Regions from separate parts of the Homo sapiens genome. Here all the other regions are reported to be linked to region 5. Evidence: microRNA targets listed by miRTarBase, many of them from high-throughput screens and not tested one by one. Region 5 holds a microRNA gene; each other region holds the end of a gene's coding sequence. Distances are from middle to middle.

What was found. Region 5 holds the annotated microRNA hsa-miR-4763-3p (AGGCAGGGGCUGGUGCUGGGCGGG, at 1,858-1,881, shown strand). A microRNA usually pairs through its seed, bases 2 to 8, with sites in the 3' UTR of a target mRNA and lowers its output. Matches are read on the target gene's strand: a 7mer-m8 pairs with bases 2 to 8, a 7mer-A1 pairs with bases 2 to 7 and ends in A, and an 8mer does both.
Region 1: miRTarBase lists ELFN2 as a target of hsa-miR-4763-3p. Seed matches in the 3' UTR shown: 7mer-m8 at 976-982, 7mer-m8 at 1,331-1,337, 8mer at 2,043-2,050 and 7mer-m8 at 2,723-2,729.
Region 2: miRTarBase lists CRTAP as a target of hsa-miR-4763-3p. Seed matches in the 3' UTR shown: 7mer-A1 at 730-736.
Region 3: miRTarBase lists CLCN5 as a target of hsa-miR-4763-3p. The part of its 3' UTR that is shown has no 7-base or 8-base seed match.
Region 4: the mRNA of FZR1 is a reported target of hsa-miR-4763-3p. Seed matches in the 3' UTR shown: 7mer-m8 at 2,151-2,157 and 7mer-m8 at 2,129-2,135.

What each region holds. Positions count from the first base shown.
Region 1 is chr22:37,369,297-37,373,410 of GRCh38, reverse strand. ELFN2 (extracellular leucine rich repeat and fibronectin type III domain containing 2) reads left to right here. Exons shown (of 3, transcript NM_052906.5): 3 at 1-4,114. The coding sequence ends at 339. Among named protein-coding and RNA genes, the nearest start is that of ELFN2, 56 kb to the left of the region's middle.
Region 2 is chr3:33,141,901-33,146,014 of GRCh38, forward strand. It overlaps CRTAP (cartilage associated protein), which reads left to right. Exons shown (of 7, transcript NM_006371.5): 7 at 495-4,114. The coding sequence ends at 548. Among named protein-coding and RNA genes, the nearest start is that of CRTAP, 30 kb to the left of the region's middle.
Region 3 is chrX:50,091,945-50,096,058 of GRCh38, forward strand. It overlaps CLCN5 (chloride voltage-gated channel 5), which reads left to right. Exons shown (of 15, transcript NM_001127898.4): 15 at 185-4,114. The coding sequence ends at 275. Among named protein-coding and RNA genes, the nearest start is that of MIR502, 79 kb to the left of the region's middle.
Region 4 is chr19:3,534,527-3,538,636 of GRCh38, reverse strand. It overlaps FZR1 (fizzy and cell division cycle 20 related 1), which reads right to left. Exons shown (of 14, transcript NM_016263.4): 14 at 303-3,842. The coding sequence ends at 3,801. It also overlaps a transcript of MFSD12 not described here. Among named protein-coding and RNA genes, the nearest start is that of TEKTIP1, 2.6 kb to the left of the region's middle.
Region 5 is chr22:46,111,767-46,115,878 of GRCh38, forward strand. MIR4763 (microRNA 4763) reads left to right here and starts at 1,800; the gene lies at 1,800-1,891. It overlaps LOC124905135 (collagen alpha-1(III) chain-like), which reads left to right. Exons shown (of 2, transcript XM_047441696.1): 2 at 1-2,162. MIRLET7BHG (MIRLET7B host gene) reads left to right here. Exons shown (of 5, transcript NR_110479.1): 5 at 1-2,162. It overlaps MIRLET7A3 (microRNA let-7a-3), which reads left to right and starts at 983; the gene lies at 983-1,056. It also overlaps MIRLET7B.

The DNA.
Region 1 (4,114 bases), 8.7 Mb from region 5:
CGGCACAGCTTTCCCGCCCTGTACTACGAGGAGGGTGCCGACAGCCTGAGCCAGCGCGTGTCCTTCCTCAAGCCGCTGACCCGCTCCAAGCGTGACTCCACCTACTCGCAGCTCTCCCCCAGACACTACTACTCAGGGTACTCCTCCAGCCCCGAGTACTCATCCGAGAGCACGCACAAGATCTGGGAGCGCTTCCGGCCCTACAAGAAGCACCACCGGGAGGAGGTGTACATGGCCGCCGGTCACGCCCTGCGCAAGAAGGTCCAGTTCGCCAAGGACGAGGATCTGCATGACATCCTTGATTACTGGAAGGGGGTCTCCGCCCAGCAGAAGCTGTGACCCCCCCCTTCCTCCCTGGTGAGGTCGGAGCCAGAGGGCTGGGGGCCTTTTGGGGGAAGGGTCCAGGCGGCCAGGGCGGGGAGCAGACTCGGGGGCCAAGGCCCAGGAGAGGACGCACATGCAGACCCGCACGCACGCACGCACACACACACCTGACCACCACCCGACTGTGAACAAACCAACATCCGACAATAACGGACAGGAAAACAGAGACACATTTTCCTTAAAGTTTACAAACTGATACCGAAACCAGTCGTCTTTACTGTGCTGCCCAGGGACTCTGCTGGGGTGTGCAGGGCCGGGGGGCTGGCGGGGGGAGGAAGGAAGCCAAGAGAGGGTGTGGGGTCTGGGGGGTCTGGGGCTAGAAACAGGTGTGGGGGTCAAGAAAGCTGGAGTAGAGAGGGACTGAAGCCCCTCTAGGGCAGGGAGAGGGTCCCTTCCCAAGCTGGGAGTCAAGTCACCTGCAGATTTAGCATTAGACATCGGGCAATGTCTCCTTCCACTTTAGAGAGGGGGGGAAACTGAGGCCCAGAGAAGGGAGTTGACAACCCCAGGGTCACACAGCAGCTTAGCCTCAAGTCCCCCAACTTCCCAGCCCAGTGCTGTCCCGGAACCCCCTGCAGCTCTCTTGTGGACCCCTGCCCGCCCTGTGCCCACCCCACATCCCTTTCCGAAGCTGTGGTCCCTTGGGGCTGAGGGACTTGGGAATCAGGCAGGTGCTTTTTCTTCCTAGAAAGCCACATGGCAGTGCCCCCAGAGTGTGCAGCTGTGATTCAGAATCCTGGGGGGCTTTTGACCCCTATGCCGGCACCCGGGAGAAGGGAGAGGGTCCTGTTGACGGGAAAGGAGCCGAGGCAGGGCGACATTCCACCAGCCCACTTCAAGTGTCTTCCACGTGGCCTGGGAAGAGTGGGGCGTGTGGCGGGCAGGCCAGCTCCCAGGACGTCTCAGGTGCAGGCTCCCGGCCCCAGCTTCTCTGGTCCTCCGAGACCCCTGCCCACCGCAGAAGGGCAGCGGTGCACTGTGATGCCTGGAGGGCTGCAGGGAGGAGCTGTCATGGGGGACTTCCTGCCTGTCCCCATGGCCTGTGTCCCCACCTGCCCGACCCCATCGTGGGATCTCGGCTCCTATCTCAGCCGCCCACCCGGGGAAGGAGGGCTTTCTCACCCATCCCCTCTGGGCTGCTCATCCAGGCCTGGCCCCCTGGCCAGAGGGGCTCCCATGTTTCCGTGGCAATGGCCACTTCCCTCTTTCTGACCCCCCCACCCAACATCAAACAAAGCACAAACAGTGAGGCCCCCACCCGAGAGAGGGTTGAGGAGCAGGCTGGGTTCGTGGCGCCCCAGCCCCTCCCAGCCAGCCTCTGTCACCATGGTAACCCTGTGCCTGGCAGTTGGTGCCCAGAGTGACCGTTGGGCTCTGGGGTTCTCTGTCCATGTAGGCGGTGGCAGAGGGTGGTGAGGGAGGGCCAGCCTGGCAGCAGCTCCTGGGGCCAGCTCTTTTGGGAGGCAAATCTGCGGTCCTGAGACTGGGGTCTTGACCAGTCAGGATGCTGATGGGCCGGAGTCCATCATCCTTCACCTCTGGGTGGGAGCTGGCCCAGCGGGGTGTGGGGACGCCTCTACTAGCAGCTTTGCCCGCCTAGCAACATGTCGCTTGGCTGCCACCCACCTCAGCTTGGGGGGCCCCGGCTCTCCCCACGCCCCTGCCAGAGACCCCCAGTCTAGGGCCTGTGGCCCACATGGGTTTCCTGAGATTTGGGGAGTGTGACTGAGGGGCGAGGGTAGGCACTGGAATGGGTCCAAGACCGGCACTGTTGGTGGGCAGGGGCTCTGACCAGGAAAGCTAGTGCCATCCCCTGGGGACCCCAACGACCTTCCTGCTGGGGGCAGGGGGTGAGGGAGGACAGCAGAGGGCTAGGAGGCTCGGGCTCAGCTGAGTACCTCTCTCACACCAACTTTGGGGTTAACGAAGCCCAGGGCTCACTTTGAGGGTGACATTTGCAAAGAAAAGACTGTTCTCCTGGGGCGAGGAGGGGAGGGGGCGGCATGGATACGCGGAGCAGACCTCCTCCCCCGGCCCCCAAAACCTGCCCCCCAACCCCTCCTCACACCCCCTTGGCACAACTGAGAAAAGCAAGCAGGCAGAGAAGCCAGGGGTGTGAGGAAGCAGACTCCCTGTTATATTTGCATGACGATTTTACTGTATTTTTCTGAGCAAACATCTGTCGTGTATGTGCCAGTTTGTCCAGACTCCCCCGCCCCCTCTCTGATGCCCTGCTTTCCCACATTCTGTCTGTTGTGATCTGACGAGCAGCTCTTGAAACCCAGGGAGGGGTCAGCTCTGCAAAAACAGACCCAAAACAGGTGCCACCAAGACACAGCCCTGCCCCACACCCACCTCCTGTGTTTCTGAGCATTGGGCCCATGTGCCACCTCCCTTCCTCCCTCCCTCTCTCCACTGCCACCTCCCTTGTCCCCAGTTCCTTCCCCTCCTCCATGCCAGGGAGGGCAGCCCCAGGGAAGCCTCCTCAAGGGCTCTTGTCCCGGTGGAAGGGACTGTCTGTCCGTCCCGCTTGTTCCCGTTTTGTAGATGAGGAAGTCAGGGCTCCCAGACGGGCCTGGTGAATTGGCTGGCCAGCTGGGGTGGAGGATCAGTCACACTGCTGAGTGTAGGAGGCCAGGAGCTTGGGGCTTCGTGGGGGGCTTCAGGGAGAGGGTGGGGGCTTTGAGAAAGGAACCCGTGGGAAGAAGGAGCACGCCTGGGCTGGGCCCCAGGGAGGGTTCCCAGCAGCAGGAGTTAGGGGCCTGCGCTTGCCATTTCCCCATCCTTTCTGCGTGAAGATATTTAGGAAACCTCAGACTCTCTGACTGCAGGGACAGGGGCCCTTCCAAAGAGCAGGACTCTGATGATCCAGGAGGGGAACTGGCCTTGAAGACCCAGTTCATGTGGTTCTTTGTGAGGCAGAGCGGGGTCTAAGACTCGGGTCTCTGGCCTCCCAGCCAGGCCAGAGCCCCAACTGCTCAGCTTGGGGAGAGCCCACCCGGAGGCTGGCCTGCATCTGTGTCCCACGTCCTGCTCAGGATGAGTTTTTCCCAGGCGGGAGGGAAGTATTCACAAAATGTTGCCATCCAAGGTCTGGGTTTGTGATGATGATGAGCATGGTGGAGCTGGGCTGTGGTCTGGGGCAGGCCAGCAGGGCAGACACCAGGAAAAGAGGGCAGGGGGGGCCACAGGGAGGGAGGGGAGATGGAGGCCCGGTGGAGCGAGGGATGTGTGGGTGCCACGCCCTGGACCTCTGCGGGGAGGCCTCCTGCCTTGGGCCGGAACAAGGTCACACCTGGGCTTGCCTGCCTCTGTTGGAGAATCTCCTCTGAAGCTGTTTCTGGGAAGTAGCACAATGGGTCTGCTCCTTCCTGGGAGGGCACAGCAGGTGCAGCTAACCCTCTGTTGGAGCTTATGGCCTTCCAGTAGCAAAACACAGAGGTCTGGCATGAAGGCAAGAAAGCCTGGTTGGTGGGGAAACCTCGTCACGGGTCCCGGCCTTGCTTTTCCCCGCGGCAGGAAGAGTCTCTCTCTGCCCACCAAAGAATCCCTCACCTGGGCTCCCCTCCTGAGGCAGTGCAGGAGGCCTGTGGGAGCAGCCTGTGTCCAGGCTGGGGAGCCCGTGTCTGGGTAGGTCTGGGAAAAGGGCTGTCAGGGGAGCGAGGAGGGTGGGAGTAAAGAGACCTGCTTGGGAAGGCCAGGCCTGGATCGTCCCCGGGAGGCAGCTGGG
Region 2 (4,114 bases), not on the chromosome of region 5:
ATGTATGCAAGCACTCAATCATTCATCCTTCAACACATGTATTGAGCACCTTCTGTGTGCTGGACTCTGGGGAAGAAAAATCAACCCAGTCCCCTGGTCCTTGAGAAGTTTGGGTTCTGGTGGTCAAGGCAGAAAGGGAACAGATAGAAAATGTTCCTGTGGGAGACCTGCACACATGAGAGGGGAGGAAGGGGAGTAGGCAGAGATGCACACAGGAGGGCCACTTAGTAGAGCTGTTCACAGGCTGGGCTGTCCGCCTCACACAGCATGTTGGCGGATCTCGCAGAGCACTTGATACCAAGTTCAAATGGAGTGGAAGCCGAGGTCCCCTCCACAGGGAGAAATCAGGTCCTCTGGGCCCCAGACCAGCAGAAAAAACCTGTTTCAGCCAAAGCAGACAGTGGTGATGGCCTCTCGGGATACTGTTTCTGCTCATCAGTACTTTTAAAAGTCCAATAGCCCATTTAATAAAGTTGTCCTGTTGTCTCTTACAGGGAGAAGTTGTGGAATATGTGGATGACCTCTTGGAACTGGAGGAGACCAGCTAGCCCACAGCAACCAAAGAGACTTCCTCTTGGCGTTCAGGAAACACAGATTCTTTGTCCTTTTCCCAACAGCCCAGGCTGTTGATACCTCAGAGCCTTCTCTTTACTCTCCAAAGTGAAAGGGAAGCCCCCGTCTCTCTAACTGCATGTCATCAGGGGTGAGCCTGCCTTTCCTATCTTCACACCTGCCACCTCATGTTCACACCTATCTTTCTCACCTTTTTTTTGAGATGGAGTCTCGCTCTCTTGCCCAGGCTGGAGTGCAATGGCACGTTCTCAGCTCACTGCAACCTCCGCCTCTTGGGTTCAAGCAATTCTGCTGCATCAGCCTCCCGAGTACCTGGGATTACAGGCATGTGCCACCACGCCCGGCTAATTTTGTATTTTTAGTAGAGACGGGGTTTTGCCATGTTGGCCAGGCTGGTCTCGAACTCTTGACTTCAGATGATCCATCTGCCTTGGCCTCCCACAGTGCTGGGATTACAGGCGTGAGCCACCATGCCCGGCCTCTTTCTCACCTTTACACCTGTCTTCTTATCCTCACATCTGTTTTCACACCTTCATCCCTGTCTTCCTCATGTTCACACTTGTCTTCCCCATGTTCATAGCTGCCTTTCTTACCATTTTGGTTTGAAGGGCAGTCTTCTCTGGCTTGTTTTTTTGTTTTTCCCAGAAAATCAGTATTATTTTTTAAATAAGAAAAACATTCCTAGAAGATGATAATTGTGAAAACCTCCTTTGGCTTATTTGCTTTTCCAGATTTTAGTCTCCTTTCTCCCCATCCGGGAAAGATGGTGGAAGACATAGGCTAAATTTCTCCAGCCTCACAATGGTCTTCACTTGGTCTGACTTGTACCAATTCTAGCACCCACTGAAAAACAAGTTGAGTAGAGAGTGTAGAGTGCAGAAATGTGGCTTTTGCCCCACTTTGCATCTCCAAAATTACAACGGTTGGCCGATCCCATTTGAGGACAATGCTTAGTTATAAGTCTCCGAGTTGGAAAAGGAAGAAAGCCAGAGCTGTCTAGTTTCATTCATTCTTTCAGTAAATATTTATTGAGTACCTACTGTGTGCTAGGCATTGACCTGGGAACTAGAGATACTTCACAGAATAACAGGGAAAGTTCCCTGTGCTCATGGAGCTTACATTCTACAGGGAGAAAGAGATAGCCAATACATAGGAATAAATATATACAAGGTATCATGTAGTGATAATTGCTGTGGAGAAAAATAAAGCAGGGGAGGGAGTAAGAAATCCTGGAGATGAGGCTGCAGTTTTAAATGGGGCCTCACTGGGAATGTGACGTTGAGCAGAGACGTTAGGGAAGTGGATCCTGGACAAGGCATTCCAGGCAGAGGAACAGGATGTGCACTGCCCCAAAGTGAGAACTTGCTCTACGTGGTCAGGAAAGAGCAGGGAGACCAAGCAGAGTCGTGGGCAGGGGTAGAATGGAAGGAGAGGCGGCTGGGGAGGACAGGTGGTGGAGGGCCTTGGCTTCTGCTAAGTGAGATGGGAACCACTGGAGGGTTTGAACAGAGGAGTGCCTTGATTGATTTATATTTTGCAAGGGTCATTCTAGCTGCCATATTGTGAAAAACTTTAGTGGACAAGGGCAGAAGGAAGAGGGAAGACCTGTTAGGAAGCTACTGCAAGGTTCCAGGCTTGGGCCTGGGCCACAGCAACAGCAGTGGTCAAATATCTAGATTTATTTTGAAAAGAGCCAATAGGATTTGCTGAGAGTTTGAATGTGGAGTGTAAGAGAAGGAAGAGTTAATGATGACATTAAGGTTTTTGGCCTGAATAGCAGGAAAGATGGAGTTACCAGTTACTGAAATAGGGAAGGATGGGCTGGGTAAGTATGGAATTTGGTGCAAAGCAGGCTGTCTGTGGTTGGAATGGGAGGTTCTGGCTGCAAATCAAAGTGGAGAGTTCTCTCAGGTCAGGTCTGCAGCAGAGCTCGAGACAGGGATCTGAATGCACTTGGTTTATTGTTGGGGGTGCTCTCAGAAGGAACCTGTGAAAGCCTTTATCAGTCATTTATTGGCTGTGAGAAGTTCTCTGGGAGTGTGGGTACATTTGAAGGCAAGTGACTTCAGTTGAGGGCAAGTCTCTGGAAAAGAGGCTGTAGGCATCTGGCAGCTACCATGCATGGTAGTGTGTTGGGGGTGGGGGTCCTGGGCACTGGCTGTGTGAAGGGATCTGGCAGGGCACCACAGCGCCCCCTACTGAACCATCAGCATGTCAGTGGCATTTAAAGCCATGCAGCTGGAGGGGCCACTGAGATTGTCTCTGAGTATTACTGAGAAGCAACAGAAAAGAGCCATGGATGGAGCCCTTGGGCTCTCTGGGAAATGGGAAATCAGCCAAAGGACTGAGAAGGAGTTACCTTAAGGTCAGAGAAAACCAAGAGAGTGTGGTGTTCTGGAAGCTGAGCTTTCTTTATTCAACCTCATTCCCTTCTCCAAATAAGCCACTTGTGTAGTTGGGCCCCTCCAGGGTTGAAGGCAAGAGGAGAAAGGCACAGCGTTTGGGAAACAAGACTTTTCCTGCAATAGCCTGGGAAGGAATAAAAGGATAGAGTGTTTGGGTTTTTGTGTAATGGTGGTTAATTGGGGTGGAACACTCACACGTTGTGCTTTTTCTGGGCTTCCCTTATCCCCCAGAACACTCTACCAACCTCGGGGAACTCGGGCACATCCTTCTGTTTCTCCTTCAGCTCTATCCTGCTTTCCTCATCCCTTCTGACACCACGTCCTCACTCACCTGCACAAGAATCCCTGCATCAGGTTCTCCTTTGAGGGTACCCACCCAGGACAGTCCCCTACCACTTCTGTCTTGGGCTGAAGTTGCCCACGTCCACAAAATCTGTACTCCCAGCGGGGGTGTTTGGCCCGAGGAGTCAGTGTTATTACTGGTGGATGCACCGTGTCCACAGCAGCCCCCAATCCCAGCGATGCGTCAGATCTTACGTGGCTTCCTGCTGGGGGAGATGGCCTTCACCCACGGGATGCCGGGTTCTCCTTTCTTTCCTCACCCCAACCTTTACTCCACCAGAGAAACTTCCTTTTGAACTCAGTGGGGAAGAGGGTGATGAGACAGGACTAGAAAGTAGTGGGGGACCCAGCGAGTGGACGCCCTGCTCCGGGATTCCTGAGTCTGTAAATAGTGTGCCCAGCAGCTGTGAACTCCCCTTATAGCCTCAGGCTGCAGTGTCCTTCCCAGCTGTGTGAGAAAATGAAAGCCGACGTCCACAGGGACCCAGGCAGGGTTGGGTGTTGTGACTCACTCCACCTCTGTGCCCTGCAGAGGTACTGTTGGGTCCTTGTCTTGTGAGCCTGGGGTGAGCTCTCTGTACATGTTGTTGTTCCACGTATGGGTTGACTTGGCATGCTGGGGGGTCCTCGTTCACTCTCTGAAGTTGGCCTCCTTTCACTGGGGATTGAAAAGCACCTCCACCCCTACCCTAGTGATGTCCCCTGAGGACCCGGGTGATAGTACAGTCAATATTGTCAGTACTTTGCTTTGATTGAAGGCTGTAGAGCTGAGTTACCAAAATTTCTATTTCAAA
Region 3 (4,114 bases), not on the chromosome of region 5:
AGGAATCCACACATCATCCTATTTGCCTGGGGCACATGTCCTACTCCTGTGATCTCATACTGAAAGGGCAGCTAGTGATCAAAGACAAAGTTGAAAAGGACTGAGGAGGACAAGTATCACCTTTGGGAATGCTATTTTAACTACAGATTTATTTTTGTTTTTTTGTATTGTGTTTGTCTTTTAGGCGATTGCTTGGAATCATTACCAAAAAGGATGTGTTAAAGCATATAGCACAGATGGCGAACCAAGATCCTGATTCCATTCTCTTCAACTAGAATCATAGAGTTCTGGATGTAAAGCGGGAAGGACATTACAGACCATGGATATGTTGTATTAACTGGGTACCCAAAACACATTTTCCATATTTGGATGGTGAAGTCACATTAGTGTGTTGTCTCTTTCCTACAAGTTAACCAGTTGCACTACATAATCTCTGGAAATTAATTTTCTCTTTAGGAGAAATTATAGTTAGGCTTCCATGATGTTACATTAGGAAGATATCATGAAAGAATAAATAAGATTGCTATGGTTTAATTATATTTGCTTTTTAAAAGATTTTTTTAACTTAAAAAGTAGTTAGCCAATATGCAATCACTGAAAACTATGCAAGAGAAATTCCAACCGTCCTGACCTATAACCTGTAGGAAACCGACGAAAAAGTCACTCTTTTGGGATCTAACTGTTGTTACTGGAAGACGAAGTGTAAACTAAGGGGCTTTGCTTTTCAAACCAGAGAAAGGAAAGCCAGAAGGAAAAGAGTAATGGTATTTTCTAGACTGTGAAGATTCAGTTCAAATGTTATCCTTGTTCCTGTTACAATATTTAGCATTATTAGTTTGTTATGTGTGTATGTTTATGTTAATTTTAATTTCTGATTATAAGACAATGCTGCTTTGGTTAATCTCTTCTAAATGAATTTAGAGAGATTGACTTTTATAGCTTGCTTGTTGCTGGTACTCTTTTGAAGTGCACAAAGATAAGTTATAGAGCTTTCTCCTTGTCTGCAAAAACGGTAATTTTCCAGGTGGCATTTGTTAGCTGGTAGACAAGGACTTTGCCGTGAATTTGTTAGTAGCAAGGAATGATTTCTTCCAGCTTCCTTGAAATGAATAATTAGTAAACTTCTAAGCAAAGTCAATGACTAGGAGTTTCACATGTTTGTGAGGTCCTAACTAATTCTCTTACCCAGATGCCACCTCCATGAATGATGGTGCTTTAGGCTTCTGGAATATGTAAAAACAGCAAAGGGAACCAAGTCTAGACTGCATACTGGTAAACCAGGGAAGACTCAGAACTGCATATGCATCCTCATGCATTCCTTTGTAAAGACCACCAGTACTAAAATAACTGGACACTCATTGTACCTCCCAGCGATAAGTATGTGTAACAGGCCAGTGTGTTGTCCCCATGATCATGAATTAGGCTTGGGATGCTTCCAAATATATTCAAGGTGTTGGAACAGGATAGGCAGCTGTGACTCCCTCAAGAGTCCTTAGAATTCTAAATAAAATGCAGAGCCATCCTAAGACACAGGGGTATGGACAAGGCCTGGTGACACCAAAGGTGCTTGTATCCAATTGAAAAGGTGCCTGTCTCAATTTCATACCACCTTTATTGCAGTTAAAAAAAAATCACACTCTGGGGACACTTGGTGGAATTACAGAGCCACCATCATCATTCCAACCACTATTTCATTTTCTGTAGTTTTACCTGTGTGCAATTACTCCCCCTCCATTCTGTTCCACTTCTTACTCCTTAGTACCAAATCCTCTGTTTGGGATTGAGCGCTGCTCCTGGTTAATCATTCCTACTACAAAAAAAAATAACTCCCAGGGCTAGTTAAATTGTAAACCAAGGCTCAGCAGTCTCACAACACATGGACCAGAGGTGACACACAGCCATTTCCTTTGCCATGTGGCCCAGTTGCTGCTGCCATGCCTCCATTTCCACACTGGATGCCTACGGCAGTGAGATTTCACTGCCGGGGTAAGAGTTCAGCCTGGATGATTTTATAGCTCTGTTCCTAGCACTTCTCATCATCCTTCCAGCCCAGAATCAGCGGTCATTCTGCATATTCCCACCAACCCTCTACCCCCAAACACTTCAGTGTACCTCATTTTAAGAGTTGCTGATCCCTGATTCTAGGACGTTTTTACCCATAGTTCTTGTCTTTCCAAAATCTGAAATTCTTTTTTTTGCTCAGAACTGGGTAGCCAAGGGTTATTTTATTTTTATCTTTAAAATAATCAAGGCAGTCGCTAGAGTTTCTCCTTGTGAATAGATCACTCTAGCATTTTAATGAAAAAGAAAAAAATCTTTCTGGGGTATGTTGTATCATAGTAATGGCTCAGTAACCACATATTTTGTCCTTTCCATGTCACTGATTCCTTCATATGAGACTATTTGGCTTGACTACCCTGTATATTGTGTAGAAATCAAAGTTCTTATCTGTACATTTCTGGTCCAATACCTGTCTTATTAGTTGTCCTTCCCCACTAAAGTTTGCAAAACAGAAAATGTTACTATTTCTGGTATTTAATGACAATGAAAGGTTTGGTCATATTTCATAGTGCAGTAGCGATAAGGAGGGTGTCTCAAGTTTGCTTTTGTGTTTCTTCTAGGCTTTGTTCTTGATTTTAGACAGATGAGCCAGTGTTAAGGTGCTACTTCAGAGAATAAATTAGAGAAATCAGATAACACTGTGCCAAGGTATACTTTGTAGATGCTAAGCACCGATTGGCCCTCCAGAGAATGACAATATCCCTTTGATACCTCACTCCTGATCAATCTCATTCATTAACCTCAGCTTCTCAGGAATCCTTGTAGCTTGTATGCTAGAAGTAGCTATGGTATATGGTATCCACTATATGTCCAGTCCTATGGTTTGGCTCAAAGGTTGGCTAATTGCAGCTAGAGCTCTCAACTGCTAGCTCAGCACCTTGACATTTGAAGTTTCTTGTCTTGAGGAGAAGGAAAATGTTCTTTCTGCCATTGCCACTTTAACAGTTGGACATGCTTAAGCAACAAATACAGCCAGTATAGGGAGGACTGTCAGTAGCATCAAATGGCCACATACCTCAATGGCAAAAGACTAGATGGTTTGTGATTTAAAAATTAATGAGTCGAGATGAGACTATTTTGGTATTAAATGAGAAAATTGCCTAACACAAGGGAAGGGTTTACAAAAGAATGCCAATTAGTGTTTCAACAGAGTTAGGATTTTCCAAGTAAGAGTAGCTGGTAGCCATCCAGCCATAAAAGGAACGAGAGTCTATAGATTTGTAAAAGTAAAACTGCTATATTTTGTATCTTCAAATCTTCAATATAAAGAATTTAAAGAACCTGAAACAGTTAATGCATGATTCGTTATATTGGAGGGAAAAAGCAGGGGACTGATAATACAAAATAATGGCAACTTTAAAGATCATTTCTACGTGGATGTTTGGTTAGAAACATATTCCAATGCTCTCCTCTTTCTCTGGCCACAGCATCCTGGCTCAGCCCAGCTGTGGAGTAGAGGTGGTAAGATCCACAGAACAGATATCCTCTGGTAGATAAGCTGACATTGATGATACTTTGAATTTACCAGCTGGTGAAGCAAACGATTAATTTGTGATTGAACTGAAAAGCAGTTGAATTGTTTTGACACCAGAGGCTGAATCTAAACCCTTTACAGGAAGAGCAGAGCATACTATACATTTCTTAGCAGATCTTCAATTCTGTTTGAACATGATGAAGTAACCAGGGTTTAGTGAGATCTAAGGCCGTGAAGTAATTCACAACCAAGATCTTATGAACGCATTCAGATGTGAGGGGGGCAAATATGTTTTCAAAAACTTAGTGTGCAATAGAGTCCATTATAGAAATTAACCACTGCTATATGTTTTAAGTAGTTCAATCACCTGTTGTGGTTCAGTCTTGATTATTGTTTATTTTGTTAGGTGATAAGTAGGAAGATGCACTTGTTATCCCACACTATCTCTTGTTTTGTTTTGTTTTGTTTTTAAATAATGAACAGTGCAATCTTTGAACTTGAGTTTTTAATAATGATAGCAAAGACAATGGTGAGAACTTGAAACAGCCAGCATATTTTATATTGCCAAAGTACTTACTG
Region 4 (4,110 bases), not on the chromosome of region 5:
ACTCAGCCACAAGGAGGTGCGAAGCTCTGACCCAGGCCACAGTGCGGATGCACCTTGAGGATGTCACGCTCAGTGAGAGACACCAGACACAGAAGGGTACGCTGTGATCCCACTTCTATGAAATGTCCAGGACAGACCAATCCACAGAATCAGGGAGAGGATTCGTGGGTGCCGGGACTGGGGAGGGGGACCTGGGGGTGACTAGGTGACATAATGGGGACAGGGCTGCCTTCTGGGTGATGAGAATGTTCTGGAATCAGATGGGATGGCTGCACGGCGTGGTGAAGGTACTGAACGCCACCTCACTGTAAGACGGTAGATTTTGTATTTTACCACAATAAACAAAACAAAACAAAACCAAACCAAACCCAACAAACATCCAGAAACCTCCTGCCCTGCCCTGCCCCTCCTCTGGCTGGGCCCGGCCTTGGGTGGGGGCGGAGCCTGCACCCTGGTCTCCGCTTCCCCTGCCCTTGTCAGGTCCCCACAGATACGACCCTGCCTTTCCCATCTGGACACGCACCCAGGAGCTCCACTCCCTCGGCGTAGGTGCCCAAGTCCTCCCTGAGGCCCACAAGGCCCTGCACGCCCTGCCCTCCTCTCCTCACTCTGTTCCTCCCGCATACCAGGTGCCGTCCTGCCCCAGGGCCTTTGCATGGCTGTGCCCTTTGCCTCTCACCCAGGCGTCCCTGCCTTCTCCAGCCCTGGCTGAAATGCCAGGCTTGTGGTGAGCCTCTGATCCAAGGCCGCCCTTCCCCAAGGCCCCCTCCCCACCCTTGTGACGCCACCTCCTCACTTCCTCATAAGCTTCTCTGTCTCTGGGCTGTGTCCCCCATGCCAGCTCCACATGGGCCAGGTCTGCTCGGTTTCATCATCTCCAATGCCCAGGATGGGGCCTGCCCCAGCTCCTTCACCCTCTTCTCAGGCACCGCGCAAGAGCGAGCCTCAAAACCACCTGGGGCCTCCTGGCTGCCAGGACCCCCACAGCCTCCCCTGCAGCCCCCGGCCCCCCGGCCTCCTGGCTCCCTCAGCCACTTCCCAGCCATTCCTCCTGTTCTCTCCGCCCAGACCCCGGGGAGGCACCAGCACCCCCTGGGCCAGGCTCCTGCCTCCTGCACCTCTCATCGCAGAACCTATGGCAGCCTGAGTTTTTCAATTCTCTTTCCCTCTCACTGCACCAGCTACATTCCAGGATCAACAGAAAAGTTGCAGCCCGCCCTGCGGGGCCCTTGGTCAGCCTCCCCCTCCATCTGGGCGTCTCCCAACCACTGCCAGGGTCGCCCCAGGAAGCGATGGCCCCACTGGCCTTCGTCTGCCTGTCGGGTGGAGCTGACAGCAGAGGCACCTGCCCCAGCGCTGCTGAGTGGCCCCCGTGCCCCGCAAAGCCTGACGTACACTCCCCTGGGGCCCCTCCACCTCCTCTCAGCTGTCCTGGGCCATGGGGAACCAATTCCCCCATTTCTACACGAGCCCTGGCCCATCATCATGGGACCCTCCCACCACGGCCTTCACCCCCCTTGCTCTGTCCCTCCTGGCCCCATCTGGCCAGCCCTGGGGGTGAACTCAGCCCAGCAGTGCCCACCCTCCCTCCCTGATGGTGTCAACCGAGCACCTCCTCCCTGGAACAGGGCCGTCCAGCTGGAGCGCAGGGACTTGCCTGGAGTCCAGTCCTTGGCCCTGCAGGATTGTGGCCGGCGCCCTGGCAGACGGGCCTGGGAGGCGTCTCTGCGGCCTTCGAGGGCTGAGCTCCCCATCTGTGAAATGCAGGCCTGGGAAGCCCCTCAGAAGCTGCTTCTGCAGCTCCAGGGCCAGATGGGGACTCTAGGGCAGGACCGTGTGACCCCACCCGAGCCGGGGACCTAGAGCCAGCCAGTCCCGGCCACACATGAATCCACGTGTTTAATGACAGCGTCACTGCATTACATGAGAAACAAGGCTGGTCTGTCCTGGGAGCTCCCCCACCCCCTAGCATGGGCAGAACCAGCCCCAACACAAACCTCACGCCGTCCGCCTGGCCCTGCGGCGGTTCCCAGTCCCAGGAGGAGCCTCTGAAGGCCACTGTGGGTTGTGCACTGAGCCAGCCAAGCCCTGACGCCCACAGCGACAAGGCGGCTCTTTGGCAACTGCGGGCAGGGGCGGGCATGGGCGAAGGCAGGGTTGGTTTTCTTATTTAAAAACCTTGAAACAGTAAGACCGTGACCACTGGAAATCCACACTGCCACGTGCACCAGCACCCCCTGCACAGGCGCACAGTGAGGGGTCCGCGCCCCACCCAGACAGAGGTGGGGAGAGTCTCTCCAGTGAATGTGGAAGATCGACCCGCTTGAAATGACGGGGCTTTAAAACCAGGACCTCATCCCCCAGGAGCAGTGGGTGGGTCCTGGCCCCTCCCCGTCTAGCCTCAAACATTTCCAGGACTAGTCAACAAAAACACAAAACAAATCCAAAGAAAAGTCACAAATACATATGTACACATGCACGCCAACCCCACTGGGGACAGACACCAGGATGTTGGGATGTGGGGAGTGGGGAGTGGGGGTTCCCAAGCACAGCAGGGTGGTGGGTGGGACCCTCCAACCCCAGCCCGCCCCACCCTCTCCACGTCCCCACCGATGAAATGGGAAGGGGTGGTGGGGGGGTGAGGGGGCAGTGCTCAGCTCAGGCCCCACTCCCCTGCCTTGCCTCCCTCCCTGCCTGCTGTGCAGCCTGGGAGCATGAGACAGAGAAGCAGAGGAGCCTGGGAAGCTTCTCGAAGGATGGAGGGCGCCCACCTCCTGGACCCCTTGGGTCTCCTTGGCTTCCCCACGGCTGTTGGCGCTGGTGGACAGGACAGGTGAAGACACAGGCAGCCTGGGGGCGGGGGCCACACCGCTGCTGGCCTCCACAGGACCCAGCCACCCAGCAGGCATGGGGGACGCAAGTCTTGCGCAGGGAAGGAGGACGCTGGCCCTGTGAGGGCACGTGTTGGCGAATGCACGAAGACGTGGCATCTGTTGTGCTCCTCTCCAGCCAGGGCAGTGAGCAGGTCCGGGTTCAGTTCTCCTGGGGTGATAAGTCCAGAGCAGACATCCTCCTCCAGTGTGAGGGTGACGCTTGGCCAGGATGCACAGGCCCATCTGAAGCCCACTGACCGCCGGGCGATGGCCATGACACAGATGCTTCCAGAGAGACTGCTGCTTCGAGCAGTGACAGCAGAGGTGGCTGCAAGGATGCCGTGAAGCCCAGGTGGGGACTGTCTCTTGGATCCACAGGCTGGCTCCGCCAGTGGCCCCGAGCCACCTGCCCAGGCCTACATGCCTTGGTCTGGCCTTGGGGCTGGTCTTGGGTTTGACATGGTGGGGTGCAGCCATGAATGGGCAACCGGGGTCTCAGGCCCCCACCAATCAGCCCTGGCGTCTGGTGGTCTGTTCTGTGCAGACGTGGGCAGTTCCAGGAAGAGCATGCGGCTCCGGTGGGCAGGTGATGAACAGACGGAGGCAGTGAGGGTCCCAGGGGGCATCCGTCGCTCTGAGTACAGACGGTCTGAGCCGGGACCGTCCAATGTGGTTCTCGCCCTTTGGGAAGGGAGACAGAGCCCCTGCTGCTGAGGGTCCCCGACCACGTGCCCACCCCAGATACTGGTGGACATGGTTCACAATCAGGCATTTAATGAGACTCCAGGATCCTCCAGGCCCAGCTCCCCGCCCGCCCAGCCGCCTTCCTCGGGGGACAAGCGCTGGGAAGGCAGAGTCCATGCAAGCTGAGGAGCTGGGGTCCTCCGACTCTGGACAGCTGGTGTGGCACGGTCCTGCCCGGCAGGTTTACCGGATCCTGGTGAAGAGGTTGAGCACAGACACAGACTCCTGCAGACACATGGGGATGGCAGATGCGCTGAGCCGCAGGCCCAGGGAGGAAGCTGCCTGGAGGGTCCCCAAGGCTTTGGGGCTTGGTCCTGAGGGGCTGGGAGGTGCCAGTTCAGCCTCGGCCTGCCACACTGCCCCGACACATGACCCAGAATTTGAGGTGAGGGAAGCTCGGAAGTGGGGGAACCCAGAGGAGGGTACGCCCGAGGACAGTGGGGACAGGGACGACCCTGGGACAGGCTGGGGCGGGGGCGAGTGGCGCTGATAC
Region 5 (4,112 bases):
TTTAAGAGGGGTTGACAGTCGTATCTGCCCCCTCAGCTTTTCCCCAGGAAGGTGGTAGCCACAATTAGCATTTGTTGAGGCTGACCCTGCACCAGGCCCAGGATAGGCGGGGCTTAGGGAGGCCCGTCTCTCGCCACGTTCCCCTGCTAGGGGAGCCCCGAGGCCCTCTCAGTGTCATCCTCATGCTACACTCTGTCCCAGCCCTGTGCGTCCCAAGCTAGGGCACTGAGTGTGCCAGCACCCGCAGGGACAGGCACTGGACCCTGGGTGGACCTGAGGGTCTGTGACTACCCCCCCAGCTGCTCTCCCCTAGAGGCCACTTCCCTCAAGGAAGGAAAGAACCTTCCCGCCACCTCCTGCAGTGCGGTCAGCTCAGGCCAGCCTGCACAGCAGGGCCAGAACCAGGGCCCCTGGGGAGGGATGCCTGCCTGCCCAGTGGGAGGAGACGGCACGCCCGTGAAGCCGCTACTCAGCCAGCCTGGGGGCCACGAGTGCTGCTTCTGGTGGCGCTGTGCGGGGAGGGAGGGGGCCGAGCAGGGTGGGCACTCGCATGCCTGTGTCTTGCTGGCCTTCGACAGATGACAGCCCTCCTCCTAGGGTCTCCAGTGCAGAGTTCCTTGGGGACATTATGGCCACTCCTGTCCAGATGAGAGGGAGCCGGCTGCCTGTGACAGCGTCGCAAAATGCCGCCAGGGCTTTCCCTCCCTCCTCCTTTCTCTCTTCCTCGTCCCTCTCTGGTTGGTGGTTTCCTGCAGGCTCCCGTCCCTGCTGGTGCTGGCCACAATGTCCCCACTCCCAGGGTTTCGGCGTCCCAGCCCCCTGCGCCCACCGCGCCTGCCCGCCAGAATCCCTGTGCCCTTGGTGCGTGTGGCCTGCCGAGCCTCGAGCCCCTGTTCTCCTCAGCCCTCTTTCCTCCCGCGTCCCCAGGAGGTGCCTCTGGAAGCCACGGAGTCCCATCGGCACCAAGACCGACTGCCCTTTGGGGTGAGGTAGTAGGTTGTATAGTTTGGGGCTCTGCCCTGCTATGGGATAACTATACAATCTACTGTCTTTCCTGAAGTGGCTGTAATATCTGCGGTGGACAGAGCGTCTGGAACCCTGGCTGGGAGCGGGCAGGGCCAGGTTTGGGGGCAGCCTTGGCAGCAGTCGGGGGCAGGGGCCGCCTACACTGAGAAGTCTGACAGGCCTAGGTGCCACTTGCTGTGTGACCTTGGACAGGCCCCTGATCTCTCTGGGTCTCAGTTTCCTCCTCTGTAAAATGGAGGCAAATGAGGATGGAAGGAGATGCAGTGTGGAGCATCGAGGGCAGAGGAGAGCTGAGCCGACCCCACCCTCTGCCCCAGCCGCACTGAGAGAGGCGATCCACGCAGCTGTTTGTCTGACCTCTGTCTCCCAACACTCCCCAACACTCCCCCCGCCATCAGGCCCAGGCTCATGGGTGGCCCTGAGCCGTACCCTCCACTGAGCACCAGGAGAAGGCACCGTGGGGCCAGGGGTGGCCGAGACGTTTGGAGGTCACAGGGCTGCGAGTATTGGCGTTGCCCATCACCCCAGGTTCCCAGCACGTGCCCCAGCCTGGCCAGCTCAGTGGCAGGGCCTCTGCCTGTGGAGGAAGGGAGGCCAAGGCACCTTTCCTGAGCAGGAAGTGAGAGGAACAGCTCTGCATACACTGGGTCCCACATGGCACAATCTGAAGGCAGACAGTGGCTCCTCTGTACCTGGGGAAACTGAGGCCCAGAGAGCCAGGGACTTCCCAAGACCAGCCAGCAGCAGCTGCCCCTTCCTGGGGTGCCATCTCCCCTGTCCCTCCTGCCCTGCGCCTGCCCAGCCCTCCTGCTCTGGTGACTGAGGACCGCCAGGCAGGGGCTGGTGCTGGGCGGGGGGCGGCGGGCCCTCCCGCAGTGCAAGGCCGGGCCTGGCGGGGTGAGGTAGTAGGTTGTGTGGTTTCAGGGCAGTGATGTTGCCCCTCGGAAGATAACTATACAACCTACTGCCTTCCCTGAGGAGCCCAGTGACACGACCCCATGGGAGGGCCGCCCCCTACCTCAGTGACACGACCCCACGGGAGGGCTGCCCCCCACCTCAGTGACCTGCAGGGGGCCTGAGCCGAAGCTGGGTGGGCATCTGGGAGCTAGATTCAATAAAGCTGTTCTGACCATGAACTTGGAACTGGCCCCTTTCATTCTGGAAGCCCAGGGACTGGGCTCTGGGGCGCGTCTGCTGCGGGACAGTGTGGAGGCCCCTGGCCACGAGCTGTTCCAGGTCATGAGACTTGTCTGCTCACGCCTCCCGGTGCCTCCAGAGTCCTCAGTTGGCTCCGTGCTGTACCCTGGGCTCAGGATCCCAGGCCCAGCCCGTTCTCTGCCCTCTCGTGCTGCCTTTGAGCCAGGCGGGCTGAACACCGGGACCCAGGCCCGGTGGAGAGGTCCCCACGGGGCAGCCACCAAGGCCCCAGGTCAGCAGCTCAGAGCACTGCCAAGTCCTGGCTCCTGAGGCCACCTCCGTGCCTTAAGTGCCTTGACCAAAGTCTGGACGTGCCTGTCCTTCCGTCCTCCCTCAGGACAGTTTCCAGGGCACCCGTAATTCCTCTGACAGACTGCCATCCCAAAAGTGCACCCATTCTCCTGGGAGGCCTCAGGCCCTCGTCTAGCAGCTGCCGTAGGCTGGGCCCAGTGATCCCGCCCTGGGCATGTGGGGTGGGCTTGTTCATGCCTGGCCCAGCACCGAGAGCCCCTGGTGGGGAGGGGCTGATACAGCTGGGCCCACACCTCCCCCACCCAAGTGCCCATCCTCGCCCCTCCTGTTGACCCAGGCCACAATCTTGGCCCAGATTCCCCCCTGTGCCCTCCTGGCCTGCCTTGGTTCTGCAGGCAACCCCAGCCCTGCATGGCCACGTCTGGGCAGACCGGCACCCCTACCCTGACACCCATCTGTGCCAGTCCTGCACGGCAAACACCTCAGAGCCCAGGCCTGCCTACCCTCCCGGAGCTGCTGCCACCCTGTGGGCCAAGGGCAAAGGGACGTGGAGGAGGGGCCCAAGGGCAGGGAGGGCTTCCTAAAGCAGGGACCATCTGAGCTGGGTCTTGACAGCTGCGTAGGAGTTTGCAGCTGGAGATGAGTGACGTGCCCCATGGTCCCTTCTCCCATCATCCTCTGGGGCCAGAGTGGGTGACACATGGGCACTGTCCAAATCCCCTTCTTCACCCCATAATTAGTCAGCAGCCACATCTGGCCACTTCTGTCCTCTAAACACCATTTCCATCCCTCCCCACTCCCACTGCCAGGCCTCAGAGTCTCAGAGCAGCCCCCTCTGTCTCCGGAGCAGATCTCTGCTGACACCCTTGCCTGCACTGCCTCCCAGCACCCCTCCCTCATGCCTGTGCTCACCTCCACCAGGACTCTCCTGCTCACCACCGCTCCCCCACCCCTCAGTCCACGGCTCAGACCCATCTCTGGCCACCGCAGCCCCTGTCTGTGTCTGAACAGACTGTGAACGTCCCGAGGAGCCAGCCTCTCCTCCCAGCCCCCATACTGTGTAGTTGGAGCAGGGTTTGGCCCTGCAGAGCTCAAGGCCTGGTCGGGGAGCTGCCAGGGACACACAGTGGCCATGTGTTGGGGTCAACATCACAGTGGAGCAGCCCAAGGGCTGGGGAACCCTAAGGATCCCTGGACCCAGCCCTGCAGTCAGAGGCAGCTTCCTGGAGGAGGTGATGCCTGGCTCACCCCACTTCCCTCCCTACCCTCCAGCTGACCAAAACCTTCCCTGCTGACTGGCCGTCCCTAGAGATGGGGTTGCCAAAACTCGCCCAAAATATAGGATGAGGGCAGCCTGTGGAAGTTCTGGGGGTGACAGGCCTAGATTGGTCACTCTGCTCACCAAACCTGTTTCCCATCTCGCAGTGGGGTCACCGTAGCTTCCACCTCCCAGGGCGCCCATGAGGATTTAAGCTGATACCAGATCAGAGTGCCCAGGGATGTGGATGAGTTGCCTTGAGAACAAAGTCCAGGGAGGAAAGCCGGGGACCAAGGACCTTCAGGATGGCCCCAGCTTCCCGGGCTGTGCGGGAGCCACGTGCCACGGACCCCTCCCAGCTCAGGCAGTACCGCCAGAG